Homo sapiens: one gene and its partner. The protein of the gene in region 2 purifies or fractionates together with the protein of the main gene of each other region. This does not show direct contact. Each region holds a gene or a part of one and is shown on either strand. Other genes may lie near its edges.

Evidence for each region.
Region 1: the proteins of RNASE4 (region 2) and RNASEH1 purify together in Homo sapiens (co-immunoprecipitation; one large-scale study listed by IntAct). This does not show direct contact.

Annotation. Positions count from the first base shown.
Region 1 is NC_000002.12:3,544,834-3,548,333, reverse strand, and holds part of RNASEH1 (ribonuclease H1 isoform 1 precursor), read left to right. Parts: intron 1-278; coding exon 279-403; intron 404-2,442; coding exon of another isoform or gene 2,443-2,462; coding exon 2,463-2,549; 3' UTR 2,550-3,500. UniProt on the Homo sapiens protein: Endonuclease that specifically degrades the RNA of RNA-DNA hybrids.
Region 2 is NC_000014.9:20,694,227-20,698,547, reverse strand, and holds part of RNASE4 (ribonuclease 4 precursor), read right to left. Parts: intron 1-4,321.

The sequences.
Region 1 (3,500 bases), on a different chromosome or scaffold from region 2:
AGCATGTAGGGGATGCTTACGAGGCTGGGGAAGGCTCCTGGGAGAAATGACATCTTAAGCTGACAGCTGTAGGTAGAATACAAGTTAGGGGAAAGGGAAGAGAGGAGGGTATTTCAGGCTGTGCCAAAGGCCAAAGCAACTAAGGCCAGCTAAGGAAGTGAAGAGTCAAGGATGGTGACTCAGAATACAAGTGGGATCAATTATAAGAGGTAAGACTAAGGAGGTGAAAAAGGCAGGACACTCAAGATTGACTCACCAGTGATCGTGCATTTTTGTAGGTATAACTAACTGGGTTCAAGGTTGGAAGAAAAATGGGTGGAAGACAAGTGCAGGGAAAGAGGTGATCAACAAAGAGGACTTTGTGGCACTGGAGAGGCTTACCCAGGGGATGGACATTCAGTGGGTGAGTATCTTAAATGTTCATGTCCTATGGCCATTATGACCAAATAAGCTAAGTTTACTAGAGATTAATGGTTTATGTAAGTGGTTTAATGACATAACAATTTCCATGATATTAATATCATAATGTATATTACAACGTATTTGAGGCTGGGCGTAGTGGCTCACGCCTATAATCCCAGCACTTTGGGAGGCTGAGGTGGGTGGATCACGAGGTCAGGAGTTCAAGACCAGCCTGGCCAGTATGGTGAAACCCCATCTTTATTAAAAAATACAAAAATTAGCCGGGCATGGTGGTGTGTGCCTGTAGTCCCAGCTACTCAGGAGGCTGAGGCAGGAGAATCACTTGAACCCAGGAGGCGGAAGTTGCAGTGAGCTGAGATCGCGCCACTGCACTCCAGCCTGAGCAACGATATGAGACTCCAAGACCCCGTCTCAAAAAAAAAAAAAAAATATGTGAGCCTGGGCTCAGTGGTTCACATCTGTAACCCAGCACTTTAGGAGGCCCAAATGGCCTGACTACTTAAGCCAAGAAGTTCGAGACCAGCCTGGATAACATGGGGAGACTCTGTTTCTCGAAAAAATAAAAAATTAGCCAGGGGTAGTGGCACATGCCTGTAGTCTAGTTACTCAGGACACTGAGGTGGGAGGATGACTTGAGCTGGGGAGGTCGAGGTTGCAGTGAGCCAAGATTGTACCACTGTACTCTAGCCTGGGCGACAGAGTGAGACCCTGTCTCAGAAAAACAAAACAAACCCACCCACATACACAAATTTGATTATTTTCCTTATCATACAAGTAATACAGTTTTTTGGTTTGGTTTTTGAGACAGGTCTCACTCTGTCACCCCAGGCTATGGCGTGATCTCATTGCAACCTCTGCCTTCTGGGTTCAAGTGATTCTCGTGCCTCAGCCTCCCAAGTATCTGGGATTACAGGCATATGCCACCACGCCTGGCTAATTTTTGTATTTTTAGTAGCGATGGAGTTTTGTCATGTTACCCAGGCTGGTCTTGAACTCTTGATCTCAAACATTCCACCTGCCTTGGCCTCTCAAAGTGCTGGGATTACATTTGTTTTGTGTCACTTCCTATATGTTTTTGTTTTATGACAAAAAGGTTTACAACTAAATCAATAATCATGTCAAACTTTTTTTTATTGTTTTGAGATGGAGTCTCGCACTGTTGCCCAGGCTGGAGTGCAGTGGCGCAATCTCGGCTCGCTGCAACCACAAGTAATACAATTCTAGTGAGAGTGTCACTAGGCATAGAATACACAGGCAGTGTGGTTTGAGGGATGTTCTACAATCCTTATATTTTGTTAAGAACACGAAGTAACACCCAACCTGGGCACATGGCATTACTATGACAGCTGTATGTCACCCTGTTCATTTCTTTGGAATGCATCATAATGTTAAATAAAACTATCAGTGTATTTTGTTTCAAACAATAGTAAGGTTGTATGATTAAAGCCTTGGTAATAGAACTTTTATTCCAAGATGGAAGCACTTTTTAAAATCATAGATCATGTTTATTAAAAAGTTTTTTTCAAGCAATAGAGAACAAATTACACTGCAGCCACTGTCTCAACCCTGCCTTGTTCTGCCTTCCTGGAACCACTGATAATAGTTTGGTAGCCTGATGTGTAAATTTGCTTTGGCAACATAAATGTAAACAGTGGTTAAATAAGTACATTATTTCTGACAGCACTGCAAGGGAAGCGTGTGTGTGTGTTGCATACATATCCGTCCACCCATCTGTACATACATGTGTTTTGCCTGGAAAGCTTATCAAGTCCCATTGATAAGTGGGGAGGAAATAGCAACATGAACGGTAAAATCCAATTTGTGAAAAAACAAAATGGAATGTTCGTAAATCACATCCATTGCGTAAACGCATGAAGAATGGACAGCGTGCTGTTGAGGATCATGTCTGGGGAGAGGAGCGTTGAAGTTGAGCTTATGCTGTGCAGTCTGTTCTGAATGGTTTTTTATGATGACAATATAGTCATGTGTTGCTTATGTAAAGATGAGTAAAAATAAAAGGAAAACATTTATCTTAACAGATGCATGTTCCTGGTCATTCGGGATTTATAGGCAATGAAGAAGCTGACAGATTAGCCAGAGAAGGAGCTAAACAATCGGAAGACTGAGCCATGTGACTTTAGTCCTTGGGAGAACTTGAGCCAGCGGCTGTCTTGCTGCCTGTACTTACTGGTGTGGAAAATAGCCTGCAGGTAGGACCATTGCAGTGATGGGCAGATGCGTCTTTCACACGGAATCAGGCACAGTGGCCTTCTGTGACATGTGTTTATAAAAAATGGTTAAGTATATAATAAATTGAACATCTTTGAGATTGGAGAATTATGTGAGATTTCCACATTATGTTTACTGGGTTCAATACTGTCCTTGCTTGTTTTATTGCAGGCAAGCAAGGCAAATGGCCTAAAATGCTGTGGCTTATATTTTGATAAGAAATCAAAAAACCATTGGTTAAAAGATGCAACTCAGAAGTCTGGAAGTATTCTGAAAGCATCCATTTACCGTCCAGTTGACAGGTTTGAGTCTCCTGCTTGTATAGGTGACTTGTGCCCATGGGTACATTAAAGGAACATGCTGCCCAGGGCCTGGGCGGACAGCTCAGTGGGCAGGATGTGTGCTGGGTCTCAGCCCCATGTGCCTGCTTGCTGGGCAGTTAGTATAGGGCAAAGCCTGCCTGCGGCGACCCTGGCTGCTAGGCCATTCTCTAGGAACAGCTGCGACTCATAAAGACCAAGAAGCATAAATAAACTTTCAAAAATTTATTTGGCTCTTTCGTTAAAAACTGTGCAAATTAAAAAAAAAAAAAAAAAAGTAAGACACCGGCTGGGCACAGTGGCTCACTTCTGTAATCCTAGCACTTTGGGAGGCCAAGGCGGGCAGATCACTTGAGGTCAGGAGTTTGAGACCAGCTTGGCCAACATGACGAAACCCTGTCTCTACTAAAATTACAAAAATTATCCAGGTGTGGTGGCACGGGCTTGTAGTCCCAGCTACTTGGGAGGCTGAGGCACAAGAATCACTTGAACCCAGGCGGCAGAGGTTGCAGTGAGCCAAGATTGCAC
Region 2 (4,321 bases):
CTAATAAGTGAAATGAGTAAGCTAATGAACAAATGCAATTAAATGGATAGAGTAAAGATGTTTCCCAGGCTTATGAAATTGACTAATAAGAAAAGCTAAGAAATGTTTAAAAAATAAATTTAAACAGCACAATATTCTCAAAAGAAAACTTGGATTGTGTCTTCTTCTCCTTGCTGTTTCTATGCATAACCTAAAAAATCTAGGCCATGGAGATACATTGCTTTGTCTTGCATCTATTCTTGATGTTCCTTCTGTCTTGTCAATAGTTGTTGGTAGCTGTCTGTCTTCTCTGGTTGCAGCATCATTGTGTTGTCACCTCTTGGCAGTGAAAAATAGGCATATATTTTATAGCATTAAAAAAAAAAGCCAGAGTGGCAACAAAAAAAGCATTGCCATGTAGTTTCAGAACATTCATTGCTTTCATTGACAGATTAAAGAAAGGAATCCAGGCCTATCTTAGTCTACACCCTGTGCTCTTTCCACTATCTACTGCCTCTCTCATCCCACACCCAAAATATTCAGGATATCAAAGACATTTATGCTCAGAATTGCTACTTCCCAGCAGCAGAGTTTAATCAAGACTGGAGGTGGACTCACTCACCAACTGACTAGCCAGATGCTGCCATCTGGCCGTCACTCCTGGAATTGATGTGAATTGTGAATCGGCTTGATTCTTGCAGTGTAGCAGGGCTGATTCACTACAGCAAAGAAAAATCATCCCTGATTCAATAGGAAGTGAGCAACGCAAATTAGCAAGGGCAATGTTTTGAGAGTCAGGCAGCCCAACTCTGTATGTGCAGTCCAAGGACTGACCCCAGTTGAACTCCTAGTTTGATGTATATGGGTACTATTGTCTTTTGATTTCAAATTCTGCTTCGTAATGGTGGATCACACTGTGTGAATGACTGAAATGGCTTCCAAACGACCTGTACCTTACTTTGTTCTGCTGAAAGGCTACCTTTTCATTATTGATAATGAAAGCAGTATCAAACATGGATATTGTTCTTTTAAATGCCACCTCCTATATCCATAGCCATCTTTTGCCTTTGCACATAAAGATATCAAGCTGTATGTCATATCTGTGTGCCTGCAGCTGTAGATGTGAGATACAGTGTTAGGAAGAGAGGGAAGTAAAGAGGTTGTGGGAGGAAGGGCAGATGTTTGATTTCCTTTTTGCCCCAAGAACAATGCATACAACTTCTGAAGGTATACTTAGTACTTGGATTATAGCTTCAGCAGATCAATATACTTTGGTTTGCTCTTCCGGTGGCACCTCGAGTTTCCATGGTTTTATCTACTTTCTCTCATCCTGATTCTTTGTGACCAAAAATATGGTTTAGCAAGATGACTAGCTACAGAGAAAACCTCACCTATGCATGCGAGAGCAGACCCAGGACGTCAGCTTTTCTGCACTACTCAAGTAAACAAGACATAGAGAAATATTTGAGGACAGCAGGCCAGTGTGGATACCAATGGGTGCATCTCAAAGCTGTAGCTACAAGAGAAAATTGAATGATCTCCACATCATCCCAACGCACACTTTTGGGTCAGGATTTTCCCCAAACGCTTTCTCCACTGCACCACCCTGACTCACAGTAAGAACTTCTTTTGACACCGTGGTCTAAAAGACTGAGGCTGTGACCATGAGAAAATTACTTAATCTCTCTCAGCAGATTTCCTCATAAGCAAAATGAGCATGTAATACCTACCTCTTAGGGATGTTATGAAAAGAAAATCAATCTAAGCGCCTATAACAAGGCCTAGCACAGGGTAAATGCTCAGTAAATATTGGCAATTACTGCATTTTTTTTTTTTTACCACTTCCATTTTTCTTGGTTTCCTCTGCTTCTGTCAATCTGGATAAAATAATGAATGACTACAGAGTTGCATATATTATTGACTCCTCTTTATTTCGTAGAGCTAACTGTATTCTCAAGATATTGGAAGTCTGTTTTTAAACTATAAAATATCTCAGCTACTAGATTCCTAGAAAAATGTTTCTTCTCCAAATTGCATGGAATTTTCTTCCTTGCATGTCACTATTCTTCAAAGCATTTAGCATTTTGGAGTGTTCCTTCTTTTTCCTTGCAAAGCCAACAATCACAGCTGACCAGGACTTCAATTCTTCAATTGATTCACGCAGGATAAAATGACCTGCCTGTGACTTGACGTTTTATTTTAAACAGCTTGTGGTTGTGATAGAACAAGAGGCCCAGACCAAAAAGGACTAGGAATGCTTGCTCAGGTGCCAGTACCATCGGCAGGTCAGGAAACACTCCCATCCCACTGCCATGTGATTTCCTATGAAACAGCGATTTCCCTGAACACCAGAGCAAACTATGCGATGATAATGCTCCAAGCAGATGTTTGGAGAAGATGTGGGTTTTCACAGCTTATGCTGTGATCAATATAATAATGGTCCATGCCTTTCACTTGCCCTATCAAGGCCTTGAGTGGCAGCGATGATCTTGAGTAACTTTGCCTCACCTCAAGGAAATAGCACTGGTTGGAGAACTTGAGAAAAGGGCCCAAATAGTTTACCAGAAACTGGGACTTTCTCATTTCCTGAGAGGTTTTTGAGATTTGGTAATATGGCAAATTTTCTAGTGACAGAGGTTTGGAATACTTTTTCCTATTTTCTTAAGGAATGACAGTGTTTTCAGTTTTGAAACAGACTAACCCAAGGAAGAGAGATTCTTGTGCTAAGCACATACCAGCTACCTACTTCTCAAACCCATTCCTAAATTTGAATACTTTCAGTGAGGCTGGGCTCTCCTAGGTGGTACCTGGACAATGTTCTATAACCTGAGTATTGGGGAGCCACGGCTTTTGGCCCATTTCAGGGCAATACCAGGAGCAGGAGAAGCCACCATAGGGAATACTGAGACCACAATAATTATGTGTTCACAAGGCAGTGAAACTGGCGACTTATAACTAATTTATTGGCAACCACTTTCTAAATAAAATATCCAAGTACCTGTCAACAGAAATTAGTTAACAGGAAGCTAACCACTGAGTCTGTAGATTGAACAGTGTATTTTACAAAGAGTGTGTTAACCTAAGTTATGTTAACTTAAAAACAAATCTTGAGAATTGAGGAAGAATAAGGGATAAACTGGGATAAACTGGGATCTTTCTTTTTTTTTTTTTTTTGAGATGGAGTCTCGCTCTGTCGCCCAGGCTGGAGTGCAGTGGCGTGATCTCGGCTCAGTGCAACCTCCGCCTCCTAGGTTCAAGCGATTCTCCTGCCTCAGCCTCCCGAGTAGCTGGGACTATAGGTGTGTGCCACCACGCCCAGCTAATTTTCACATTTTTAGTAGAGACAAGGTTTCACCATGTTGTCCAGGATGGTCTTGATCTCTTGACCTCGTGATCTGTCCGCCTCAGCTTCCCAAAGTGCTGGATTACAGGCGTGAGCCACAGCGCCTGGCCGGAATCTTCTATAACTTCCCCAAAACATCACACTTGCCAGACATTAGTTGATAAAGTAAAAGATTACAGAGGAAATAATGTAATTGGTTTTTGAATTTTATATAAAATAACCATGACAAGAGAATATCCTGGGAGCATTCCATTCAAACATCAAAATTATCTCTCGCTTAAGACAAAAGGTGGCTACCCTGAATGAATTTTGGTATTCATGCTGGATTACATATGTGTATATGTGTGTGTGTGTGTGTAAGAGTGAGAGAAACTATAATAATCTGTTGGTATGTTGGTACTTGGTCCTTGGAAACTTCTCTCCAAGGTCTCATATTTGTAGAAGTAATATTAGCTTATTATTTGACAGAAAAAACAATTTGCCTATCTTGGAAATTCTGCTTAGTAGCTACGAGCCCTGGAATTTTTCCATCTCTCTCTGTAGATCAACATACCATACTTTCCTTCACAGAGAGGTAAAGTCTACCTCCCTAATGACTTGTAAAAACTGACTGATAAGGAAAAAGTGGCCCGGCTCAGTGGCTCATGCCTGTAATCCCAGCACTTTGAGAGGCCAAGGTGGGCGGATCTCCCGAGGTCAGGAGTTCAAGACCAACCTGGCCAAAACGGTGAAACCCTGTCTCTACTAAAAACACAAAAATTAGCCAGGTGTGGTGGTGCATGCCTGTAATCTCAGCTATTTGGGAGGCTGAGGCAGGAGAATCACTTGAACCCAGGAGAGAGAGGTTGCAGTGAGCCGAGATTGTGCCATTGCACTTAAGCCTGGGCGACAGAGTGAGACTCCATCTCAAAAAAAAAAAAAAAAAAAACGAAAAGAAAAGAAAAAGGCATTTCTATCCTATGCAGTCCTCTCAGGGAGCAGCCAAGTAGAGAAAATGGG